Linked DNA regions of Homo sapiens: regions 2, 3, 4 and 5 are each reported to be linked to region 1. The links are microRNA targets in miRTarBase. Many come from high-throughput screens and were not tested one by one. Region 1 holds a microRNA gene; each other region holds the end of a gene's coding sequence. Distances are from middle to middle.

Region 1 (5,100 bases):
AGCTATGACAGCTCCCTGCCCCAGGGCCAGTGGGGTGCAGGCCACTGGCTGATCTGACCGCATCCTTCCCCTTGCTGCAGCACCCCCAGCGCCTCCACCAAGCACATTCTGGATGACATCAGCACCATGTTCGACGCCCTGGCTGACCAGCTGGACGCCATGCTGGACTGAGCCCTCCAGCAGTGCCCACTGTGACCTGCCGAAGTCCACTGCCTTTGCCCCAGCACAGAAGAGGCCCCTGCCACCCTAGGGACGGGCCAAGGGCTGGTCAGGCTGAAGTGCCCCTCCTAGCAGGGCCCCTTCCCACTCAGCCCGCGGCTGTGGGCACCACAGCTCTTGTGGGGCAGCCCACCTTAGAACCTGACTAGCGAGGGACCTCCGCTGCATCTCAGCAAAGCCCCTCCCAGGGTTTGATCGATTGAGCAGGACAGCCCTGCTCCTGGACAGGGACCCTGGTAAGAGCTCTCTCCTCAGGGAGGAAGTAGGGGTGGGGCTTTGGGGGTGCTTTCTCTGTACCCCCCAGCCCATGTCCCAAGTTGTGCCAAGGGAATGCCTCTTGCCACCCACCATCCTGCCCAGGCCCTGAGAGGCTGGAGGAGGCGTGTGTCTGGCCGGGCCCCCTCTCCGTAGGTGTACAGAGGACATGTAAATACACAGCGGTGGTGCCCAGGCAGCTCCTGCCCCCGCCTTCCCTCACTGAGGCAGGGCTAGCAGGGGTGGGAGGCAGTGGGGTTAACAGATCCCACAAGTCCTAACTTTTCAATTGTAAATGTTATTTTCTAAGCAGAGAGAAATGCATATATTTTAAATGGAATTTATTCTATCAACTGCCTGAGAGGACACAATGGGGGAGGGGCTTCGGACCACAGCAGGAGCCCCGACTGCCCACCTGAGGGCAGGGAGAGCCTGACCCCATTGGCCCAGGCCCTGGCTCTGTAACCATTAACCTCTTCCCCCAACTAACACCAATGAAAACACCATTCCACGTGACTGGGCTGTGTGTTTGCCTCTGTGACATGGGGACCCCTGACCCTAGGGGTCTCGCCTGAGCCAGACCTGAGGGACCCACCCGCGTAGATGGAGGAAGGTTTAGGCCTCCCTTTGCCAGCCACCGCCGGGGGTGGGCAGACCCTGGAGTGGCCTTACAGACCAGCCACAGGTATTTCTTAGCAATTGACACATTTTAATACAAACCAGTCTACATTCATTCCTAAAAGGCTCATTTCCAGTAAAAAATATACACCAGTAGAAACTTCTCCCAGAACTGGGGCAGAGGCTGAGGAGACCTGGGCCAGATTCCCCAAGACTGACAGGCAGCCAGCTTGAGCCAGGCACAGGAAGAGGCTCCAGGGCGAAGCGGGGGCCCTGCTCCATCTTCAGGTTCAGGCGGGAGACTCCCCCACAGAGGGAGGGAGGGGAGGCACTCGGGGCCACATCCAGGCAAGCACCACCCCCCTGCCCTCCACGGCAGCCTTGGGAGTTGGACGCGTCGGCCAAGGCTGCTGCTGTTGCTCCTCCAAAGAAGGTTGGCTTCAAGGCCGTGTCCAGGGACCCACGAGCAGAGGCACTGGGGGGCAAGGGATCTCCAAGGGGGCAAGGGATCCCTAAAGGGGGTAGCTCACAGGTGAGGGGGTTTAGGGCCCCTCTAGGGAGCGCCTGAGGCCATACATTCAAGAGTGTCCCTGGTGAGGCCCAGGGAAGAGCCAGGACTGGCCAAGGGCCCAGGCCGTCAGCTCCTCCACAGTGAGCCCCAGGGCTCAGGAAGACAGCGGGGTCTGACACGGGGAGCTGGGTTTCCAGTGCCACGGGTGCAGGAGCAAACCTGGAAACATTCATGATACAAACTCCCCTGTTCAGAAATGGGTCTGGCTTTAGCCCCAGGGACGGGGGCAACTACAGCCACCACAGCCAGTGGCTCAGAAGGGAGAGTTCATGCCCAGCTTAGTTTCAAACTGCAGCTTCTGTCGCTTCTGGTAGCGGACTCGGACCCTGGTGGGGCAGGAGATTAAAGTACAGGTTGGCAAAGATCCTTAGACCAGGGGCCGGGGCAGGACACCAGAGGAGGAGGGAGGGATGGGCAGCGGAAAGGTGGGGGAGTGTCGCCAAGGGAGTAACAGGTTTAGGGAACATGCCTGAGCCCAGAGGGAGGCGCCCTGCTGACAGCTCACCGAATCTCATGTAGCTTCACGATCTCATTGGTCACCACCACAAGGACCAGGGACAGGCAGCCCAGGAGCCATGTCAGCAGGGGCACGTCCTCCAGGCCAAAGTGGACGTGGCTGTCCCTGTGTGTCCACAGCTGCAGGTCCACAGCCGTCTGGACCACCTGACCCAGCAGCCTGCAGGAGGTGGCGGCCCCGTGTGAACCCGACACTGCTTGCTTCCTTCCCTGCTCTTCCCAGTACAACAGTTAGCTCAGGCAGGGTACAGTTAAACCACTGGCCCCGGTCCCGCCCTCCGATCCTAGCCCTGCAGAAGGCCCTCTCCTCCCCAGCCCACACTCCGCCCTCCATCCTAGCAATACTCACACCACAGGCACTGTCACGGCCCACCAGAGGTTGGTCAAGGGGCTCTTTCTCCACAGGGGCTTGGTGCGATGCACATGGGTGATGGAAATGAAGACTGGGGAAGGTGGGGCGATGTGGGGGTCAGACTTCCACAGTGGGGCTCCTCTCCCACCATCATCCACGCCCTCCCAGGGAGCCCTCTCACCAGTGTGCAGGACAATCAGGGCGGCCGTGAGCTTCTGAGCCGACAGCAGTCCATTGGCAAAGTCCTCAAACCAGGCTGGAGCCCTGTCGTCGTTGCTGCCAAAGTGAGGCATGGGCTCAGCCCCTCTAGGGCCGCAGGGAGGTAGGCTGGGGTGGGGAGGGAGGAAGCCTCGAGGCGAGGCAGGCGATGGGTGGATCTCTGGGGCTGGGACCCACCTGGGCAGCATGACGGAGGAGCAGTTGGTGAGGTTGCGGTCCCGGGAGCTGTCACAGAAGCTCTGCAGTGTGAAGCCAAAGCAGATGAGGCAGGAGCTGATGGTGAGGCTGAACTTGAGCAGGAAGCAGAGCAGGAAGTAGTGCTGGGTCTGCGGGAACAAGGCCAGTCACTCCTGGGGCGCACAGCCCCTCTGCCGGCTGCTCCTAGCTCTTCCACGTATTCAACGGGCTCTTAGTAAATGGTCAGGCCTGGGGGGATAGGGAGCTCAAGCCCCAGCAAGGGTCTTTCCCAGCTCTGTGCCACTACCTCCTCTTTGATCTGGGGGAAGACTAGGAACCAAGTGCCGGAGTTCTGCTGGAATCCCCCATCCAGAGCCTTCCAGATTAGCCCCTCTCTCCTCCCCCAATCCTCAGTCCCTTCCATGCTCACTTGCAAGGCTCACAGGGTCTGTTTTGCTTACCTTCTTGGGAATGGACTGGAGGTTTTTCCCCGTTGCCATAGACATGATGGAGCTATGGGGGGGCTTCCCCAGCAGAGAGATGCTGAAAAGCAGAGATCAGGTAGAGGGATGGTGACAATGACCCTCTGTCCCTCAATTCTCATAGAGGGAACCTCTAGGGAGTCTTGCGCGTGAGGTCGAGTCTGGTGAGGGGATGGAATAAAACAAAGGCTGGACGGCAGTGGCTCACACCTGTAATCCCAGCACTTTGGGAGGCTGAGATGGGCAGATCATTTGAGGTCAGGAGTTCAAAACCAGCCTCGCCAACATGGCAAAAACCCATCTCTACTAAAAATACAAAAATTAGCCAGGCATGATAGTGGGTGCCTGTAATCCCAGCTACTCAGGGGGCTGAGGCAGGAGAATCACTTGAGCCCGGGAGGCGGAGGTTGCAATGAGCAGAGATTGCACCATTGCACTCCAGCCTGGGTGACAGAGCGAGACTCCATCTCAAAAAAAAAAAAAAAAAAAAAAAAAAAGACAAAGGGGGTTCCCTCCATGCCTCCTGTACCAGAGGAGGTGAGACCTGAGCAGTTCCAGAACCTTGGGCTCCTGGGGCTGCACAGTGACATCCAGACACCTCCTGCTTAGGCATGGGGTGTGGGGAAGATACATGGCATCTCACCTGAGCAGAGGGTAGCAAAAGCAGGACAGCCACAGGATGTCGGTGGTACTCAGGAGTGGCGGCAGCTGGACCAGGCAAGAAAGGAACTAGACCAGGAAAGAAGCCAAGAGCCACAGTTCAATTCAGGCAAATAATAAGGGCATAGGAGCCCCCGAGCTCCCTTGCCCTGGGCCCAGATAGATGCTCACATCCTGCCAGAGGGAACAGGGGCCGGAGGGAATACTCTTCTGCCAATGAGGGTCAGCTCAAAAAGCCCAGGGGCTTCACAGAGGCTCTGGGGGGACCCCTTGACTGTACTGCTAACCCCAGCCTCCTTCCTCAGATTTTCAGCTGGCCCCTGAGTGAAGGGGTGAGTGGCACGGGGGCAATGCCTGTGCGGGCCCCACCTCACCTGGATGACCACAAGAGTCAGCTGGCACTGCAGCAGGAAGAGGAAGCACTTACGGATGCCATAGGTGGCATGCCGAGCCTAGGGACCAAGAGGGACAGATTATGGCCTGGGTCTACCTGGCCTCTCCCAGGCCCAACAGCTGACACACTTTAGCCAAGAGCCAGACGCCCAGGATGCTTCTACGAGGGGAGCAGAGGCGAATGTAACTGCCTGGGAGAGCCCGCTCGGAGGGCTGGGGAATGAGGTCCCCGGGTTCAAACAGGTCCTTTGCTGCTACTCCCACCCCAGGCGGGTCCTGTCCTGCGTCTCTCCTCCTTTGCCTGCCGAAGCACCCACCTGTTCGATAAGCCGGATGATGCTGATGGTCTCCTCCTGGCGAAAGGTCAGGGAACAGGGCAGGCTGTTGAGCTGCCCTGACAGCTGCAGGGGAGAAAGGCCATCCGAGGCCTGGGCCATGCTGATGCTGGTGGCGTAGCCAAAGGTCTCCCAGGAGCAACGGGATGGGTACAGGGGATCCAGGGCAATGCTGCTCAGGGTGGGGGACACACACACTTCAGCTGTATCTCCCACAGGACTGGGCACCCCACCCTCTTCTCCCACCATGCCCAGGTGCATTGGTCCCAGCCAGGGCGAGGTCGGCTATAGTACACACCCCCA
Region 2 (5,100 bases), not on the chromosome of region 1:
TTGGGGTTTCCTCCTGCCATGCCAGGGTAGGAAGGTCAAGGTCATCTAGATCTCCAAAGAGCAGCTGGGCTGAGGAGGGGTACTGAGGCCAGCAGCCTGGCCTGCGTGTGAGGTATTAAGACACGGCAGACACACAGAGTGGCTGCGGTTATCCTTGCTTCCCCTTTTCCCTGTTGAGAGGTCTCCATGTAATAATGCCTCCTTTCTTCTCTTGCAGGGCGATGGCTGGGTATACTTCAATCCCCTCTGGAAAGCACACTGATGGGGTGGAGGTGCAGAGCTTTCCAGTATAGCCCTGTTTTTGTAGGAATATTAAAGTAGTAGAGTATCAGGGTTTTGTTGGCATTCACTGAGACCTTGTATTAGCATCCAAGAAATGATGAGAGAGAGAGAAATTATATACTATGAAAAGTGCACCCCCACACTCTGCTAGAGGAATGAATTTATTCAAGAGCCATTCGGGGCACGTGTGTGTACACACCGTATACGTTCACACACATGCACTATGTAAACATCTGAGTATGATTACACATTTAAATACTGCACTCACCAAGGTTAAAGTGGGTAATCATAAGCTCCTTTTTATCAATGAAGTTTGAAGTTTTTCTATTTTTCACTTTGCCAAAAATGTTTTACACTCACAAAGATATTCTCACTTAGTCAACTCCTGTCAAAATGAAGGTGAACTGGCATGGCCCGATCACTGTCCATAAGGGAGAAAGTGGCTCATTCCTGGTAGAAGTATGGGTGGTTATCATTTCAAAATTATTGTGATTCTCACCTCCCTCCCCACCTCAGTGTTTTGTCTGTCCGCGCCCAAGAAAGATAAGCAAGTATTTCCTGCTGGATGGGGGTTGGCAGGAAGCTGTTAAAGATTTATGCCAGAGCCTTGCAGGATGGAGCACCTCTGGGACAACTAAGAGCCAAGGCCCACCAAGGAGTTTTCCACCCGTCTCTCATGGTCACAGCGCTAGTCATTCATTTTTGAGAAGTTGCTTCTTTTACATCAGAAAACCAGTCAATCATATGGAGACTTCTTTTGTGATGAAAAAGGGCTTTAGAAGTTAAATACATGCATGCACATGAAAACATGCACAACCACAGCCTCAATCTTGTATTTAGTTTGGGGAAAGAGAAGAGAATTTCCTGTGGATTATTTTTTCCTCAAGTGCACCTCTCTGGTTAACCCAAACTCTGCAAGAAAGCACTGTGACTAAAACATACATAACGCCTGCATAAATATTCCATGGTTTCAGTTAAATTTCAGTTTTTAGCCTTTACACATGAGGTCAAAGGAGTGACGAAAATACAAAGCAAGGAAAAAATGAAATATCTGGTTTTTGCTGAATGCTTAATTTATTTTTTACTGTGCCACTCCAATATTTATCAAATCCAAATAGCATGAATGCTTCTCTGTAGTAATACTAATTTTGTGCCTTTTGTCTGCTTTCTTAAGACCAGTTGTTCACACTTTGTAGATATTAGACAAATATATTTCGATTGAATACATATCTGTGTCTGTGTTTTATTTTCAGGGATTCAACAGTTCTATTAAATTGGTGGCTCTAAGTGAGCTCAACTTTTCCTGGTTAAATATTTCTAGTTATTGATATGAAGAGCAATCATATCTATATGGAAAAAGTATTTAACACATTTAAAAATGTACCAGATAAACATTTATGAATATTTTCTGGTAAGTCCATAAGAACATTTAACTCCTACCCAGTGAGTGTTGTTTCACGAGAAGAGTCACTGCCAGAAGTCACAATAGAAGCCTACTTAGGTCCACAGTCTTTAAAGCATCTGGGTGAATCAAGTATCTGGAACCATCTTATTTCTGACAGAGAAAGTGGAACAAATGCTATTTTGAGAAAAAGAAGAAAACTCAACTCAATGAGACTGAAAAGTAATCACTGTGTTGTTGGATTTTCCAGTCTGACTACAAAGCATAAACCATCTGGGAAGTAAAACATGGAGAGGGCTCACTTTTCTTTTGAGGCCAGGGGTACATTTAAAATTGTGAAATGTTATGTGTCAGGAGATTTACATAAAACATATGTACTCCAGGAATAATTATAAATACCCTTGTAGCCACTGCTTAAGCAAAGAAACCTGTTTACCAGTACCTTAAAAGCCACTATTGTGCCCCTATACAATTGTATCCCTCTCCATGCCTTCCTGGAATAACCATCCCCTTATGGGTTTTTTGTTGTTCTTTTAGACTATACACACTATGTGTGTATTTCTAAACAGTGTGATTGGTTTTACCCATTTTTGTAAAAATTGAATCATACCCTAGTTTGCCTATTTGAGCCAATATTTTCTTTCTAGTTCAATCCTTGTTGCTCTATTTGTTCATTTTCTTGCTGAGTTCATATTATGTTTTATTGTGGTAAAATATATGTAACAAAATCTACCATTTTAACTATTTTTTTTTTCCCAGATGGAGTCTCACTCTGTCACCCAGGCTGGAGTGCAATGGCGCGCAATCTCTGCTCACTGCAACCTCTGCCTTCCGGGTTCAAGCGATTCTCCTGCTTCAGCCTCCCGAGTAGCTGGGATTACAGGCGTGTGCCACCATGCCCAGCTAATTTTTGTATTTTTAGTAGAGATGGGGTTTCACCATGTTGGCCAGGCTGGTCTCAAACTCCTGACCTCAGGTGATTCACCCACCTGAGCCTCCCAAAGTGCTGGGATTACAGGTGTGAGCCACTGTGCCCAGCCTGGCATTTTAAAAATATACTGAGAAGTGGAATTGCTATATCATATGAAAATTCTGGTTTAAGTTTTAAGGAATTGCCACACAGTTTCTCACAAGAGCTGGCTGCCACATTTTGCAATGCCACTAGCAATGCACAAGGGATCCAATTTCTCCACATCCTCACCAATACCTATTATTTTGTTTTTACTTTTGTTGTTTCTTTAACCCCATCCTAATGGCTATGAAGTGCCATCTCAATGTGGTTTTGATTTATATTTCCCTAATGATTAGTGATGTTGAGCATGTGTTTTTGTGGTTTTGGCCATTTGTAAATCTTTGGAGAAATGTTTATTCAAATCCTTTTGCCCATTTTAAAATTAGGTTCTTTTTGTTGAGTTTTAGGAGTCCTTTATGGGTATTAATCCTTTCTGGATATTAATCCTTTATCAGATATGATGTGCAAATATTTTCTTCTGACTCTTTGGTTGCCTCTTCACTGTTAATGGTGTCCTCTGATGTACAAAAGTATTTAATTTTGATAATGTCTAATTTATTTTTCTTTGTACTTGTGCTTTTGATGTCATATCCAAGAAATCATTGACAAATACAATGCTGTGAAGTTTTTGTCCTATGATTTCTTCTAAGAGTTTTATAGTTTTAGGTCTTACTGGGGGGTAGGGGGTACTTTGATCCATTTTGAGTTGGTTTTTATATATGGTGTTAGATAAGGGTCCAACTTCATTCTTTTGCATGTGGATATCCAGTTTCCCCAACACCATTTGTTGAAAAGACTCTGCATTCCCCATTGAGTGATCTTGGTACCTTGTTGAAAATCACTGGCTATATACACGAATGTTTATTTATGGCCTATTCTTTTCCAATGGTCGATGTCAGTCTTTATGCCAGTACCACACTCTTTTAGTTACTGTAGCTTTGTAGCAAGTTACAAGATTAGGAAGTATGAGACCTCCAACTTTTTTATTCTTTTTTCAATATTGTTTCGTCTGTACAGGGTCATTTAAGATTCCATGTGAATTTTAGGATGAAATTTTCTATTTTTGCAAAAAACTCTGGGATTTTGATAGGGATTGCATTGAATCTGTAGATCCCTTTGAGTAGCATTGTCTTAACAGTAAGTCTTCCAATCTGTTAACCAGAATATCTTTCCATTTATTTATCTGTCTTAATTTCTTTCAGCATGTTTTGTAGTTTTCACTGGGCAAGTCTTCCTCAGTTAAGTTTAATTCTTAAGTATTTTACTCTTTTTGGTACTACTGTAAGTAGATCTTTCTCAGTTTCCTTTTTGGATTGTTCAATGTTGGCATATAAAAGTGTAAGTGCCAGGCACAGTGTCACATGCCTATAGTTCCAGCTACTCAGGAGGCTGAGACAGGAGGATTGCTTGGGCCCAGGAGTTTGAGATTTCAGCATGCTATGATTGCTCCTGTGAATAGCCACTGCACTCCAGCCTGGGCAACATAACAAGACCTCATTTCGTAAAAAACACATAATACTGATTTTTGTGCATTGGTTTTGTATCCTTTGCTGAATTTGTTTATTCTAACAGTTTTTTGGGGGGTGTGTGGGATCTAGGATTTTCTAGATACAATCATGTCATTTGCTAACAGATTTTACTTCTTCCAAATTTGGATGTCTTTTATTTCTTGTTCTTGCCTAATTGCTGTACCTAGAACTTCAAATACTGTGTTGAAGGAAGGAGGCAAAAAAAAAAAAAAAAAAAAAAATCCTTGTTTGTTCTTGATCTTACTGGAAAAGGTTTCAGCCATTCACTATTATGAGATTGGTTGTGGGTTTTTCATATATGGACTTCATTATGTTGAGGTACTTTCCTTCTACTTCTATTTTGCTGAGTGTTTTTGTTATAAAAGGGTGTTGTATCTTGTCAGAATGCTTTTTCTGCATGAGTTGATCAAGTGGTTCCCCCCCTCTATTCTGTTAATGTGTGGTGCATTGCACTGACTTTCATATGTTGAACCACCTTGCATTCTAAGAGTAAACTCCATGTTCTCATGGTGAATAATCCTTTAAATATGCTGTTGAATTTGCTTTGCTAGTATTACACTGAAGATGTTTGAATCAATATTCATTCATAATGGTTGTTGATCTGTAGTTGTCTTGTGTCTTTTCTGGCTTTGGTACCGGAGCATGCTGGCCTCATAAGATGAATTAGATTTTCTGTTTCTCTATTATTCAATCCTGGTAGGTTGTGTGTTTCTAGGAGTTTGTCCCTTTCGTCTAGGTTATTCAATTTGTTGGCATACAATTGTTCATGGTATTCTTAGGATCCTTTTTATTTTTGTAGAACTGGTAGTAATGTCTTCACTTTCATCTCTAATTTTAGTTATTTTTTTTTCTTTGTCAATCTAGCTAAAGGTTTG
Region 3 (5,100 bases), not on the chromosome of region 1:
GCGCGCCGGGACCTGGAGCGGGCGGGTGGATGCAGGCGCGATGGACGGCGGCACACTGCCCAGGTCCGCGCCCCCTGCGCCCCCCGTCCCTGTCGGCTGCGCTGCCCGGCGGAGACCCGCGTCCCCGGAACTGTTGCGCTGCAGCCGGCGGCGGCGACCGGCCACCGCAGAGACCGGAGGCGGCGCAGCGGCCGTAGCGCGGCGCAATGAGCGCGAGCGCAACCGCGTGAAGCTGGTGAACTTGGGCTTCCAGGCGCTGCGGCAGCACGTGCCGCACGGCGGCGCCAGCAAGAAGCTGAGCAAGGTGGAGACGCTGCGCTCAGCCGTGGAGTACATCCGCGCGCTGCAGCGCCTGCTGGCCGAGCACGACGCCGTGCGCAACGCGCTGGCGGGAGGGCTGAGGCCGCAGGCCGTGCGGCCGTCTGCGCCCCGCGGGCCGCCAGGGACCACCCCGGTCGCCGCCTCGCCCTCCCGCGCTTCTTCGTCCCCGGGCCGCGGGGGCAGCTCGGAGCCCGGCTCCCCGCGTTCCGCCTACTCGTCGGACGACAGCGGCTGCGAAGGCGCGCTGAGTCCTGCGGAGCGCGAGCTACTCGACTTCTCCAGCTGGTTAGGGGGCTACTGAGCGCCCTCGACCTATGAGGTAACAGCCGGGAGGCAGGGAGGAGGGAGGGCCGGGGGCCGGGGTGGAGGGACGGGGTGGGCAGGCCCGGCGGGTCGCGCCCCCAGGAGCCCGCGGAGCCGAGCGCCAGGCCCGAGCGATGGCTTCGATTTCGCTCACTCTTCATTTCCCCCAAAGTTTTTCAAGCCCGTGCAAGACCGGCGTTTGTTTGTCCGGGATTGCAAAACTTCCCCTCGCGGCTCAGCCGCCGACGAGGGAGGGGTAGACGAGGGGAGGGGAGCGGCCGTCGGGCCGTTGAGGTCTCTAGTGCTGGCGGATCCTGGGGCAGATTGGGGTGCTGGAGGCGGGGTGACTTTGCATTGCAAATCGCGCTCCCGGGCCGGGGCGGCAGAAATGAGTCGGCGGGCGCGGAGCCCTGACTCACCGCGGCTCCGAGCGCCCGCCCCGCCCCCGCCGTGTCTCAGACCGAGTCGCGGCACCCACGGACTCAAGACTCCAAAACCAACCGAGCAAACGAAACTGCCGACTTCGCTTGGGGGAGGTGCGGGCAGGGCCGGCCCGGGCGGGGTCTGCCCCGGGCCCGCGCCCGCGTTGACGCGCGTTTGGTTCCCCACCTTCCCCCCGCAGCCTCAGCCCCGGAAGCCGAGCGAGCGGCCGGCGCGCTCATCGCCGGGGAGCCCGCCAGGTGGACCGGCCCGCGCTCCGCCCCCAGCGAGCCGGGGACCCACCCACCACCCCCCGCACCGCCGACGCCGCCTCGTTCGTCCGGCCCAGCCTGACCAATGCCGCGGTGGAAACGGGCTTGGAGCTGGCCCCATAAGGGCTGGCGGCTTCCTCCGACGCCGCCCCTCCCCACAGCTTCTCGACTGCAGTGGGGCGGGGGGCACCAACACTTGGAGATTTTTCCGGAGGGGAGAGGATTTTCTAAGGGCACAGAGAATCCATTTTCTACACATTAACTTGAGCTGCTGGAGGGACACTGCTGGCAAACGGAGACCTATTTTTGTACAAAGAACCCTTGACCTGGGGCGTAATAAAGATGACCTGGACCCCTGCCCCCACTATCTGGAGTTTTCCATGCTGGCCAAGATCTGGACACGAGCAGTCCCTGAGGGGCGGGGTCCCTGGCGTGAGGCCCCCGTGACAGCCCACCCTGGGGTGGGTTTGTGGGCACTGCTGCTCTGCTAGGGAGAAGCCTGTGTGGGGCACACCTCTTCAAGGGAGCGTGAACTTTATAAATAAATCAGTTCTGTTTACCAGTGGCTCCTATCACCTACACTTCCCAGGTGACGGCCAGACTTCCGTGGTCACTACTCCTCAAACCCTGCTGCCTCCTCCGTAGGGTGGGTCTGGGTGAGATCTGGAGTGCAGCCAGGCCGTTGATAGCGGAGCCATTGGGACACCTTGTGAGGCTGGGGGCATCCTCCAGGAGGTGGTGGGCTGGTGGGTTGTCCAGACAGGGCTACTCGCTGGCTTGGAAGCTGCAGGCTGGAGGCTGCTGACCCATCCCGAGGGCTGGGGTAAGTGCTGGGTGTGGGGCTAGGCTGAGGTGGTCTGACCAGAGAGCACCGGCTGTGGGGCTGAGGGCATGGGCTCCTGCGCAGGCCACCACGCTCAGATCTCCACTAACGTGGCAGCTGGGCAGCCCAGGGCAAGTGGGTTAACTTGCAAATGGGTTTGACCAGACCCACCTCAACGGCCTCTGGGAGGAGTTAGTGAGAGGTGCCTGGAGGCTGCCCTCTCGCTAGCTTTGGGTTTTGCCCGCACTGGGGAGGCCCTGCAGGTCTCCGCTCACCTGAATTCTAAGAGCGGCTCTTGAAAGGAACAAGGAAGGCTTGGAAGCTTTGCGCCAGGCTCCCCGCAGCCGGAGAGCTGGCACTGGGATATTACACGGCTATACCTTTGACTCAGGGCCTAGGAGGCTTTGATGTCTCACTGTACCGAAAGCTGCCTTTTAGTGTCCTGGTGGGGGAGGGGTTGTGGGGCTCCCCCGGTTTCTTTAGGGCGCAGAGGCACCCCTTCCTTCAGAAAGGAGTGGTTGGGACAGAGCCGTGGGAGCCCTGCGAGGTGGGAGCAGCTGGTGTTGTCCCAGAGTGGGTGGCTCCTGAATAACCACGGCAACAGGACACCCAGGCTACCGGGATGCCTGGGTCTCAAACGTCAGGCTGGCCAGGTCCCTTCTTATCAGAGGAGCTCAGGGCTCCTCTCTCGCCAGCTGCAGCCTCAGTCCAGGTGGGGGCTCCTCAGCAGCCAAGGTCAAAGCCGAGTCTGTAGCGGGGGTCAAAGGGGTCAGCTGGTCTGATGAGGACCAGGCTCAACTGGGGTCAGTGGACCAGCTGTGGCTTGGGGCTGCAGGGCTCAGGGAACTGGCCTTGGCCAAGGGACAGGAGGGGGCACATTGCCGTGGTCACCCAGGGAGGGACATCCCACAGGCTTCTCCCAGAATCCACACCCGGGTCGGTGGCCTCCCTGAGCCCTCCCCAGGACTCCACACCTTGACCTCAAGGAAAGGCCCACAGCTGCCAGGACCACAGGGGGCTGTTGGGTGGGTGAAGAGGGTAGGGGGGAAACGATGGAAGGCCAGGGCAGAGGAAACGACTGCCACCCACTGGCGTGAAGCGGACAAAACTCTGCAGAGGGTAAGTAGTGCTGCCATTTTTGTTTTCCCATTTTCCCATTTTTCATTTTATTATGGAAAATTTCAAACATACACAAAAGCACCGAGGCCTTTGTTGAGCAGTCTCTGTGCCAGGACTTAGGGTGCATCCGTGTGCCACACAAGCCCGTGCTCGTGGAGCCTGGGTCCTAGCAGTGGACACAGGATCCAACCGTTGTACAGTCTGGCCGGTGGAGGACGCACTGGGCTCCAGGGCAGCCCTGGGAAGCCTCCAGCACCAGTTTCAAGGCCCTTCCTGCCCCATCCATCCCCCACGCCATCCCTGCGTTGCTTTGAAGCAAATCCCAGACTTTGAATCCTTTCACCCGTCATGTTTCACGTGTGCCTCTAAAGGAAACCGCAAAAACATCACCCGCTCAAATGAACCACCGTTCTTTCATATCATCGGGGACCCAGCCAATGGCGCAGTCCTCAGGGGGTCTCGTGGTTTTGTGCAGTTGGCCTTATAGAATCGGGATCCGCCGCAGGTCCACACATCAAGTTTGCTTAATAGGTCTCTTAAGCGCCTTGTAAGCAATTTCCCTCCAGTGTCTTCATTGAAGAAGCGGAGATGTCTGTTCCGTTGAGCCCCCGTGTGCGTGGTGGTGTTGATGGCACCGTGCTGGGTGTTGTTATTGGGAGCCTGTCCCTGTATTTCCTGTAGGACAGGGTATGGGGTGCCAGAAGCGGACCTTTGATCAAGTTTGGGGTGGCCTGCAAATGGGGTTGACACCAGGCCCACCTAATGAGTGTGACAGAGATGCCAAGAAAGATCCGTTCCAGGGAGACAAGGGACTCCCTTTCCGAGTTTGCCTCGAGAACTACCCAGCAAGCTTGTGGAAACTTCCATAGACCTCACAGCGATCTAGGCCCAGGCTATCCCCTCGCCTTCACTGGGGCAGAATCGCGTCGTGGTCTAGTGGCTTCCCACCCGTTGCCACCTCCTTCCTGTGTATTTCCTTTCACACGGGCGTTTCCCCGAATGCAGTCCTTATCCAGTTCATCCCACTTGGCACCTGCTGCTCAGAGGATGTAGTGCTGCTGGACTGCATCTCCCAGGAGACAGGACTTGTAGCGACGATGTAACTTGCTGTCCCAGCGGGGACATTTTTGAGACTGGAAAGGGCTGTGGTTGATAACCAGGACCACAGGCGAGTCTCCTGGGCACAGTGGGCTGCTGATTGCCGTGTTATGAAGACCCCTCCCCACACTGTCATTCACCCAGTGCCCAGTAAAGATGAAGTGCCTGAAGTCACAGGCAAGCTGGTCCAACCCACCTTCTCTTGCTGTCGTTTTGTTTTAGGCTCTCAGCAGCCTAAAGTCATGGTTTTAGTTTCTGTCTCTAGTGATAAGCAGAAAAGAGGGATGAGGAAGGGACCCTGCTGGCTCAACCAGAAACAGAAACTAAGAATCCATGACTGTCTTCTCTCCCTTGGACTCAGCTTGAAAATGATGAGAATTGAGATTTAAGCCCTGGACTCTTTCACTTCCACATTCTTGCAATGTTCACGCCTTCCAGGAAGTGAGGCTGAGCCTGGCGGCTCCTTTGGGGACATGACATCCTTAGCAGTTCAGCATTTGAGATCAGTGAGCCTGGACAGAGCCTCACCTGGCCCAGGTGCCAGCCTGTCCTGGGCTCTGCTGTGGGGGCAGCAGGGCTCTGCTAGGAGCTCATGGTCCAGGCCTAGTCCCCACCTGGAAGTTAGAAACTGATTCCAGGGAGAAGGTGATCGTGATGTCATGTTCAAGGTGCTAAAATATAAAGCATTTTTCTTTCTTCTATAGTCAACCTCTTGACTTACTATTTTATACTTCTTATTTTATA
Region 4 (5,100 bases), not on the chromosome of region 1:
TGGCCGTAGGAGAAAATACAAGTGAGTGTTGGGCCTACTATAGTGCTGGCCTTTGCCTACTTCTTTTTGGTTTGGACAGTTCTAATGTCCAAATAGTGGCTTGGTTTTCAAAAGGGCAGATTCTTATTTGAATATGAATAAGGATATTATGCCTTTACTATCCAAATGTAGAAAGTTTCCCACCCAAACTTCTGAAATTCACCTGGTGCTTGGGAGCTGTTCCTGATCATCTGTGCCCCTTATTGCAGCCCTACCCGGAACAGCAATAGCTCCCGCCAGGACATTACCTTGGAACCCAGCCCTACAGCCCGAGTAAGTGTGTGTTTGGGTGGATGGGTGGATGGGTAGGGTGTAAGGGATGAGGCGGCAGGAGGAAAGGAGGGTTAGAGGGAGTGGGGAGAAAAGAAGACTTCCTGATACCTAGCAATTGACCACTTCTATCAACTTCCCCTCTGATATTAGGCAGCTGTCCCTCTGCCTCCCCGGGCCCGCCCTGGCCGTCCTGCCAAAAACAAGAGGAGGAAACTGGCCCCATAGCAGCCATACCTGGAGCTGGATCTGACCCTGATTGGGGAGAGCTGAGTGCTGAGCCTTGGGAGCCCCTGCCAGCCACCTGCACCTGTGGACAGTGGGTGGGGGCACTACTCCCCACTCAGAGCACAAATGCAACTCCTTCCCCTACAATCCCATCCTGAGCCATTGCAGGGGGCAGGGAAGTTCACCCCCCCCCACCACCCCCCCGCCCCCCCGAAGCCATGTCACTGAAAAGGCCTGGGGGGGATGGTATATGGCCCTTTCCCCACCAGGCGCTAAGGGGAACACCCCCTTCCCCAGGTCTTTTATTTGTTTAAGTTATTTTTGCACAAATGACTCTTTTATATTTAATTCGATTTCATTGCCTCCCTTCTTAAAGCCAACAGGCTCAGTTTACAAACCTGTGAGCTACTGTTGGCTGCTGCCCTCCTTCCCAGTGAAAGGTACAAAGCAATAAGCATCATGCATCCTCCCCTTACCCCTCCAACACCCCTCTGCCTCTGGCTCAGGTTGCTCAAAGCACAGATCCTCTCTTACCCCGTCCCCAGGTTTGAAACACATAGCCTCATTTCAAGGTGTAGCCAGGTTCCCCCGACTTTCCTCTGGGATATAAAAAAGGGGGTAAGGGGGCAAAGAGAGCCCTCTGGGCCTCTCCTCCCATACACACTACACTGCCCCTTCTCCCCCCATCAAAACGCTCAGAGACGTTGTGATGATGCGACTGAGGATTATGCAACGTGGTCCAACCGGAGCGGCCAGCATGACCAGCTGTCCAGGGGCTGCCTCCTGCCTTTTCTTTTGTAAAGACAAGACCCTTGGGAGTTTTAATTCTGTTTTGTACTTGCCCTGTGGGGCCTCCACTGCTTTTCTATGGGAGACACTCTTAATTTAACAGATGAGAATATTTTGAAACTCTGGCTCTGGCTCTGTACTCATTTTTTATTTAGTTCTTTGGTAAGAACAGGTTACAATTTAAATCCATCTCTTGTAGTATAGAGTGGCTTAGATTGCCTGTTATGACGAATGAATATCTATATCCTAGTGCTGCTTCCTCCCCAGGAAACACAGCAGAGGCCACACAGAGTACAACAGCATTTAATGGTCAGAAACAGTTGTACAGTATTACAGTCAGCCACAGAAGCTGTGTTGGGGGACAAGACCCAATCCTTCCCCACACCAGGCAAAGCAGTATTGGACATGAGTTGGCATGTGGCTGGGCCCACGTCCTTATCCCCCAGGCCTGAGGGGAGACCACCTTCTGATGATAACCAACCCCTAGCTACCACTCTGTATTCATCAGGGGAGGGGTATAAACCCCACATGCAAGAAGAACCCTTGCCCCCAGTGTCAAATGGGATGGGGATGCTAGAGTTATAGTAAAGGGGAAACCCTATGTAAGCTGTTAACAGAGTTCACAGGGGTAGGGATAACCCCTGTTCTCCAGCTCCCAAATGTGCTCACTTTCCCAGCTTCTTCATCCGTTCATCAATGCTGGCAAAGTTCCCCTCAACTGTGGCCAGGTTTTCACGCATGGTTGTCTGCACCTACAAAGTGGTAGAGAGGTTTTACTCTTTGTCAGGTCCAGTTGCTTAACTGGATGAGGACCTGAAGGAATTCTCTGAGAGAGAAGACAAGAAATGGAAGCACAATTTGTGGGCCACAGAGGGGGGATGTTTATAGCACCAATTTTCAAGCTACCCTTAGAGTACATAGACCACGCTTGGGGTGAGCCCAAGCAGGTAGGACTCGAGAATTCCCATCCTGACTTCAGCCAGAACAGTTTTTTAAAATCTGTTTTATGTAATGAGAGCTAAATAAGATTTTGTTGAAATGAGGGTTTCACTGGTTCAAAATGTTAGAAAACTGCTCTGGAGGAAAAGGATATTATTCTAAGTCCTTTATATATTTTTTCATTTATCTCAGTGATCCTGTGATTGATGCTGGTCTCTCGACTTTAATGCTCCTTCCAGCACTGAGAACAGTGCCTCCAACAGAAATTGGGACTTGCGGCCAGGTGCAGTGGCTCACGCCTGTAATCTCAGCACTTTGGGAGGCCGAGATGGGTGGGATCACTTGAGGTCAGGAGTTTGAGACCACCCTGGACAACATGGTGAAACCCCGTCTCTACTAAAAAAAAAAATTAGGTGTGGTGGTGCGTGCCTGTAATCCCAGCTACTCAATAGGCTGAGGCATGAGAATTGCTTGAGCCCGGGAGGTGGAGGCTGCAGTGAGCTGAGATCACACCACTGCACTCCAGCCTGGGCAACAGAGCGAGACTCTGTCTTAAAAATAAAAAACAATAAGAAATTGTGGACTTGCTGTGTGCCAGGCATTACTAAAAGAATGAAGGAGCTAGGTGAGGCTCATTGTCCAGGGCCAGAAAGGAAGCGACAGAACGAGATTAGGGCCTGCTTCTGACTTCAAAGCCCGGATTCCTTCCAGTGTACTGTGCTTATCAGGGAGAGTAAAGTTGAGACGACAAAGGGAAAGAGTGGGGTTTTATAAGAAAACATGTTCACTAGCCCCTAACAATTTGCCCATATTATTTCACCTCATCTACATAACTCTGAGGGAGGTATAATTTCCCAGATGGAAAGATGGAGGTTCATAGGTTAAATAAGTTGTCAAAGGGCCTTCACATTGAAAGCAGGATGGAGACTCCAGACCAACCCCCTGCCACAACACCATGCTACAAAATAGGCTAAGGCAGAACCCTATAACACTGGAGAACCTAGTTTGCACATGCTGGAGAAAGGAGGACAGATCAACAAAGGGGCACACACCTGGGTCAAGAGGGTGGTATTGTCCTTCAAGGAATTAGCAATCATCTGCTGGGTGGTATCCAAGTGTGTCAGGAGCTGACCAAACTGCATGGCTACAAAAGAAAAGTATGGTTGAGACTTGAATCCAAGATAAGGGAGGGGACCAAAAGTTGCCCATTTTTCAACTTCTCTTAGCACTCCTGGCAGCTGGCCTCCCACCTTGCTCGTGCAGCTGCTTGATGGTGACAAGTCTCTGCACCAGCTCAGGGAGGGTGGAGGCAATGGGGCTCCAGCGCTGTATAGTTTCATATAGCTGGTGCACCTGAAGGGACACAATGGGGCCCAGAGGGGATGGCTGAGGCAGCCAGGTCAGTATGTACAGACTGCTATTTCACCGTAATGGGGGAAAGGATCAAGTGGGCAGAGGGAAGCAGTGCCCTGACTTTCCAAGCTGATAAGCTCTTCATAAGAGCTTATGAAGATGGGGACCTGAGGAGTCAGTGTGTTCTCATGCTTTGACACTGCCACTCGGAGAACCTGAGGGAGTGGAAAGGAGATGGGGAAGGTGTCTTCCTGACCTTGCTTTGTGTATCTGCATCTTCTACAGAGGCTTTATGCTTGGCAATCTCGTTCACCTTTCCCAGGACACTCTGAAAACACAGATTTTAAGGTTGATAGGGCATCCAGGGCTTCCAGAGTCCCAAGCTATCCATAATTTAATTTTCCCTCCATTTAATACCTGTAGCCGAGCCTCCACTTGATCCAAAACTGCAAGGTCTAGGGCGCTCACCTTTGCTTGCAACAGCTCTACAGTCTCCTGGGGATGGAAGTTGGGACAAGCATCATGAAGAGGAAAGGCAGACTAGCAAGAGGCCTCCCATATTCCACTAAATTAATATATAGCTACAAACTCAAAAATAATCCTCAAAGCAAACCCAAACCCAACTATCCCCTCTGTGATCCAAACACTCCAGTTTCTTCCAAACTCACCATGAGACAGGCTCCCTGTAGACCTGCAGAAAGGGGATTCTGGTGGGAAAGGAAGGGAAGAAGTGAGTGGTCCTTATATCTCCATGATTATCGTCTTCTCCCATCTTTCCTGGTTCTAGCTGGGAACCCACTAGCTGATCCCTGTAACTGAAGCCCTTTGATGACTCCTCCCAGGCTTATGTGGAATGTTGTAGACCTTAAGGCCTAGAGTTGCAGGATCTAAGGCTCAGATTATGTACAGGAGAACACCTGACCTGAGCATCCTGATCACAACGTACAGCTGTCTCCAGCTCTGTCAGGCGCTTTTCAAGTTCTGCGACCTAGTGGGAGGAAGGAGGTGAGATTTGCCATCTGCTTCCCTGCTGCTGCAATGGGAGGAATACGATCCTGCTCTACTCTGCCTGCCACTCACCACCCCAAGGGATTCCTTTCCCTGGAATACATACCTAGCCACAATCTTAAAATCCTAACCAAAGGTAGATGGGCGAGGGAAACATAGAGAATGAGGTCGGGCGCGGTGGCTCACGCCTGTAATCCCAGTGCTTTGGGAGGCCGAGGCGGGCGGATCACGAGGTCAGGAGATCGAGACCATTCTGGCTAACATGGTGAAACCCCATCTCTACCAAAAATACAAAAAATGAGCCGGGCGTGGTGGCAGGTGCCTGTAGTCCCAGCTACTCAGGAGGCTGAGGCAGGAGAATGGCGTGAACCCGGGAGGCGGAGCTTGCAGTGAGCCAAGATTGCGCCACTGCACTCCAGCCTGGGAAACAGTGCAAGACTCCGTCTCAAAAAAAAAAAAAAAAGAAAGAAACAT
Region 5 (5,100 bases), 47 Mb from region 1:
CCACAAAGCTGAGGCCCCAGTCAGGGTGGTTCTGACTTGCTGCCCATGGTCTGTCTCTTGCCTTCCCAGTCCTATTGGCCAAGCTCTACTTCCTCGTGGGCCCAGGGCAGGCCACAGAGAAGCAAGTGCTGAGTACCCCCATGTGTGTACACACCTGTGGGGACTTCAGACTCCACCAACCCTTTCTGAGCATCCTTCCTCCCTAGTCATGCAGCAGTTGGAATGGGGAGATGCAGGAGCCCAACCTTGGCAAACAGCCCACATGGGTTGGCTGCTCACTGTTCCTCTTCTGTGACCATCCCCCTTTTTCCCAGGGCGCCGCCGGCACCAGAAACAGGACGAAGAGCCAAGTGAGGAGGCAGCCATGATGAGTTCCCAGGCCCAGGGGCCGCAGCGGAGACCCTGCAATTGCAAAGCCAGCAGCTCGAGCTTGATTGGGGGCAGTGGGGCCGGCTGGGAGGGCACAGCCTTACTGCACCATGGCAGCTACATCAAGCTGGGCTGCCTGCAGTTTGTCTTCAGCATCACTGAGTTTGCGACCAAACAGCCCAAAGGCGATGCCAGCCTGCTGCAGGATGGGGTCTTGGCCGAGAAGCTCTCTCTCAAGCCCCACCAGGGCCCTGTGCTGCGCTCCAACTCTGTTCCTTAGGACTGGCGGCTACCCCGCCACTGGCCTGTACACCCACCCAAGACTCCTGCAATGCAAAAATGTACACAAACCAAGCCCGGGTGTTTTCTATACTCTACCAGAAACCCTTCAACTACAATCTTTGCATGAAATGAAGAAAACCTTTTGACTGTTTTTTAAAAATCCTTTTTCTTTTCTCAAGTTCTAGGGGGCATTTGCACATATATTTGTACTCAACATTTCATGGGAAAGCGGCAGACCTGAGCTGAGGAACAGCGTGGGCAGGGAGGGAAAGACCCAGGGTCTGGACACTTCCTCCAACACAAAACCCTTCCCCACCCACCTCCTGCTCCCTCCCCCTCGCCCACCATTGTAAAATAATCAGAAACTTGTTCTATTTTGTGGCAGTGACAATAGTTTTATATTAAAAGAAAAAATACAGTTTTCATACAGCAAAATCTATACAATATCATTGTTTTATTTAATATAAAGATCGCTACCCACCTTCCTTCCATGGTTCCCACCCTCCACGTTATTTTCCCTTTCTGCAGCGGTTGCACTACAGGTAGCTACTGTGTATTATGGACAAATGAGAAATGAATTCTTTTTCTGGCTGTCCATCTATTTTATTTCAAATAAGGAAAAGTGTATTTGGATTTTGTGTAAATACATCTAGTGATGACATTTTTTCAATGTTTTTAAAAACCGTGTACAGTACTACATGTGGTAGAGCGTTTTCTCAAATTGTCTATTGTAGCAAAAATGTTTTTGTCGTAAACCTGTTTTGTCTCCTTTTTTTGTTCTCTTGCCACTTCTCTCCTCTTCCTCCTGCCCCTGGTTCCCTCCTCTCCTCCCACCCCCACAACCAGTACCAATGTACATAGTAATTGTAATGTTTTAGACTTTACAGAAACTTTCCTGTATTCTGTATATAAAAAACAAAAATACTTCAAATTGTTTTCTGACTGTCTGTCCTACCTGTCATCACCCTTAGAGGAGACCCTCCCCTAGATCTGGGTCTAGCAGGTGGGGGGCCTTTTGAACAGGTCTCATTCCCATAGGGAAGTTTGGTAGGGGAGGTGTTGGAGAAAAGTGAGCCAGGGTGGGTGGATGACAATGGAATGACATGGGTGCGTCTGCTGGCCCGGGGGGAGCTGTTTCTCCAGAGAACCCTGACTGATAGTGGAATCTAGTCTTGACCTGTCACTTCTAGTCATGTGATCTGCAGTCACACTTCTCTACAACTGCTATTCCTCATCAAAAAACGAGTCTGCTGCATTACCTTAATTCTCAAGTCCCGGGGACCTTCATTAAACCAAATTCCATGCTTTCCTCCCAGATCTTAGTGAAAAACTCTCCAGGAAGTTTTCCTGAGGTCAGCCTCCTCAGATGGAGAGCACCTCTGTGTATATTCCAGCACTGTTTGTGTAGGTGCATCTGCTTGTGTGTCAGGATTTTGCCTTAGGGATAGAAAATGAATATTCTACCCCCAGCCTCATCCCACAGCATCTACAATGGAAACCCGAATCCGCAGTGCAGCTAAATAGGAAACTGGCCCTGGAATCTGAGGTCTGTCCCTGACTTTCATCTGCCCATGCAGGCGTCATCACTCTGCTCCCGGTGCCCTAATGGGCTTTTTGAACTCCCTAAGGACAGAAACTTGTATATCTTCCACTCGGAATTTCCAAGTCTAACTACACTGCTGGGCACACCATAAGTGCCAAATACCAGGTTCTAAATTGTACTGAATGTATCAGGCAACGGCCTTCTGCCCTGGAATGGTCTTACCCATTTGTTCCTAGCCAGCCCCACCCTTCCTGCCATCATGGTCACTTGTAATTGAGTGATGGAGCTTCTCTGCCTGTCTCTTATCACCTATGAGAACCATTCCAAAGGCAAATTTCCTCCTGAAAGGCAATAACAGATTTTACTCTCTATCTCTTCCTGCTTCCCTTCAGCCATGGAAGGCACTAGTGGGGTTGAGGTAGGGAGATACAGAGGGGGAATGAAGGAGTGAATTCTGACACCCCTTAACTGCCTGTGCCACCTTTAACAGTGTCCTCTCTAGCCTGTGTGGGGAGAACACGGAAGAATCCTAGAAGCTGGGGGCTGGATGTGAAGATAAGAAAACGAAGGATTTGGCCCAGTGCAGAGGCTCACACCTGTAATCCCAGCACTTTGAGAGGCTGAGGCAGGTGGGTCACTTAAGGTCAGAAGTTTGAGACCAACCTGGCCAACATAGTGAAAACCCTTCTCTACTAAAATACAAAAATTAGCCGGGTGTGGTGTCACACACCTGTGATCCCAGCTACTCTGGATTCTGAGGCAGGAGAATTGCTTGAACCCGGGAAGCGGAGGTTGCAGTGAGCCGGGATCACGCCACTGCACTCCAGCCTGGGCAACGAGAGTGAAACTCCGTCTCAAAAGAAAGAAAGAAAGGAAAGAAGGAAGGAAGGGAGGGAGGGAAGGAAGGAAGGAAGGAAGGGAGGAAGGAAGGAAGGGAAGGAAGGAAGGAAGGAAGGAAGGAAGGAAAGGAAAGGAAGGAAAGGAGAAGGATTTGTGCAGAAGGGAAGGAAGGAGAAGGATTTGTTCTTAGAGGGAAAAGCATCTAGGACTAGACTCAAAGACACACGTGTATTCATGTACACACCTAACTTCAGAAGGGAGGGACTGTGCTACATACACCTCGAGTAAACATATGGAGATATGCAAGCACATGCACTGGCAGAGACTACAGATGCAGGCACATACCTGGAGGGACTCTGCCAGAATGCACACAAACACCTACAAGGTGCTTACAGGAGCTCACACACAGGATCCAGAGGCACGCACACAACCCAAAGGGTGATCCTCAGGGACATGGGCACATACACACCTAGAGATCATTCACATACAAGCGTTGCAGATGCATGCACATACCTAGCGTGCACTCACAGGGTGTACGTGGACACACACACCCAGGAGTTCACACAGGCACACACCTAGGGGGCGCTCCCAGGGCCCAAGCGCACACACTCACCTCAAAGGTGTCCACAGAGGCACACGCCCCCAGGACGCCGACGCACGCCTAGGGGGCGCTCGCAGGGCCGGCGCGCACCCGCACGCGCACACGCCCCTGCCCAGCCTCCTGCCCGCCTCCGCCTTCGGAGGCTGACGCGCCCGGGCGCCGTTCCAGGCCTGTGCAGGGCGGATCGGCAGCCGCCTGGCGGCGATCCAGGGCGGTGCGGGGCCTGGGCGGGAGCCGGGAGGCGCGGCCGGCATGGAGGCGCTGCTGCTGGGCGCGGGGTTGCTGCTGGGCGCTTACGTGCTTGTCTACTACAACCTGGTGAAGGCCCCGCCGTGCGGCGGCATGGGCAACCTGCGGGGCCGCACGGCCGTGGTCACGGGTGAGTGCGGAGGCGGGTGAGTGCGAGCTGGCGGGGCGCGCGGAGAGGAGGCCGGGCCGGCGGTAGCAGCGGCCCGCCGGGCTCAGCTCAGCTCGGCTCCCGCCCGCGGTCCGCAGGCGCCAACAGCGGCATCGGAAAGATGACGGCGCTGGAGCTGGCGCGCCGGGGAGCGCGCGTGGTGCTGGCCTGCCGCAGCCAGGAGCGCGGGGAGGCGGCTGCCTTCGACCTCCGCCAGGTGAGAGGCAGCGGGGGCGCGTGGGACGGTGAGCCGAGAACCCGCCGGGACACAGAGAAGCCAGCAAAGGGGCTGCGGAGGATCCGGGTCCAGGGAGGAGAGCGCGGCGCGGGCGGCTGAGCGCGAAGAGGGAGTGCACGGAGCGCTGGGGTCACCCGAGGAAGGCGCACCAGAGCCGAGTGGGGGAGGGGCTTCCTGAAGGCCGTAATTGCAGTTCTGAGACGTTTAAGCATCAGTAGAAGTTGGGTTAATGATCAGTAGGAAAGGGAACAGCAGAGGGCACAGCATAAGCAAAGGCTCTGAGGCAAAGAGAGCTGGACTGATCTGAAAAACTGAGAAAAAGATTTAATGAGGCTGGAGCACAAAGTATGAGGAAGATGGGCAAATGAGGGGGCTGGAGAACATTCTAGAGCCTATTGAGAAGCTTGGATTTTATAGATTGGGCAGCAGAGACCAGTGGAGACCATGAACAGCCCTCAGTAGGCTCCGGACTGTCAGAATAGCCTTTGGAAGGAACTCCTTTGTGGCTGCGTGGTGCCTGGAGTGGGGGGGCAAGAGCGGGAGAGAGGAGACCAGTGAGAAGTTACAGATTTTAGGGTAAATGGTAATGGGGAAAGGAGGTGATAATAATAATAGCAAGTACCTACCCAGTGCTGCTAGAGTGTATTTTACACGTTAACTCCTTTCATCCTCACAAAAGCTCAGTGAGATTGGGACTGTTGTTATTATTATTCCCTTTACGCAGTGAGAGAACTGAGACCCAGAGAGATTAAGTATCTTGCCCAAGGTCACACTTTAGTAAAAGGCAAAGTCAGGATTTGAATCCACACACTTATCTAGTACACTCTAAG

Evidence for each region. The annotated mature microRNA hsa-miR-6785-5p reads UGGGAGGGCGUGGAUGAUGGUG and lies in region 1 at 2,677-2,698, opposite strand. An mRNA with a match to its seed (bases 2 to 7 or 8) in the 3' UTR can be bound and repressed. Matches are read on the target gene's strand: a 7mer-m8 pairs with bases 2 to 8, a 7mer-A1 pairs with bases 2 to 7 and ends in A, and an 8mer does both.
Region 2: miRTarBase lists OSBPL10 as a target of hsa-miR-6785-5p. Seed matches in the 3' UTR shown: 7mer-m8 at 784-790.
Region 3: miRTarBase lists ASCL2 as a target of hsa-miR-6785-5p. Seed matches in the 3' UTR shown: 7mer-m8 at 1,466-1,472.
Region 4: miRTarBase lists MBD6 as a target of hsa-miR-6785-5p. Seed matches in the 3' UTR shown: 7mer-A1 at 1,188-1,194.
Region 5: the mRNA of PHF12 is a reported target of hsa-miR-6785-5p. Seed matches in the 3' UTR shown: 7mer-m8 at 980-986 and 7mer-A1 at 1,478-1,484.

Annotation. Positions count from the first base shown.
Region 1 is chr17:75,496,151-75,501,250 of GRCh38, reverse strand. MIR6785 (microRNA 6785) reads right to left here and starts at 2,703; the gene lies at 2,623-2,703. TMEM94 (transmembrane protein 94) reads right to left here. Exons shown (of 32, transcript NM_014738.6): 24 at 4,780-4,969; 25 at 4,444-4,521; 26 at 4,053-4,138; 27 at 3,389-3,470; 28 at 2,928-3,076; 29 at 2,713-2,807; 30 at 2,529-2,622; 31 at 2,169-2,339; 32 at 799-1,989. The coding sequence ends at 1,917. CASKIN2 (CASK interacting protein 2) reads left to right here. Exons shown (of 20, transcript NM_020753.5): 20 at 81-990. The coding sequence ends at 171.
Region 2 is chr3:31,657,234-31,662,333 of GRCh38, reverse strand. OSBPL10 (oxysterol binding protein like 10) reads left to right here. Exons shown (of 12, transcript NM_017784.5): 12 at 218-1,509. The coding sequence ends at 262. Among named protein-coding and RNA genes, the nearest start is that of OSBPL10-AS1, 44 kb to the left of the region's middle.
Region 3 is chr11:2,265,273-2,270,372 of GRCh38, reverse strand. ASCL2 (achaete-scute family bHLH transcription factor 2) reads left to right here. Exons shown (of 2, transcript NM_005170.3): 1 at 1-640; 2 at 1,247-1,875. The coding sequence starts at 41. The coding sequence ends at 622. Among named protein-coding and RNA genes, the nearest start is that of ASCL2, 2.8 kb to the left of the region's middle.
Region 4 is chr12:57,528,698-57,533,797 of GRCh38, forward strand. It overlaps MBD6 (methyl-CpG binding domain protein 6), which reads left to right. Exons shown (of 13, transcript NM_052897.4): 11 at 1-21; 12 at 249-312; 13 at 463-1,451. The coding sequence ends at 537. DCTN2 (dynactin subunit 2) reads right to left here. Exons shown (of 14, transcript NM_001261413.2): 8 at 4,541-4,606; 9 at 4,287-4,325; 10 at 4,036-4,113; 11 at 3,875-3,946; 12 at 3,516-3,618; 13 at 3,318-3,409; 14 at 1,354-2,078. The coding sequence ends at 1,992. Among named protein-coding and RNA genes, the nearest start is that of MBD6, 8.4 kb to the left of the region's middle.
Region 5 is chr17:28,901,732-28,906,831 of GRCh38, reverse strand. It overlaps PHF12 (PHD finger protein 12), which reads left to right. Exons shown (of 15, transcript NM_001033561.2): 15 at 315-1,582. The coding sequence ends at 649. It overlaps DHRS13 (dehydrogenase/reductase 13), which reads left to right and starts at 3,753. Exons shown (of 5, transcript NM_144683.4): 1 at 3,753-4,014; 2 at 4,131-4,249. The coding sequence starts at 3,888. RefSeq lists an enhancer at 486-986 and silencers at 3,531-4,160, 4,662-4,854.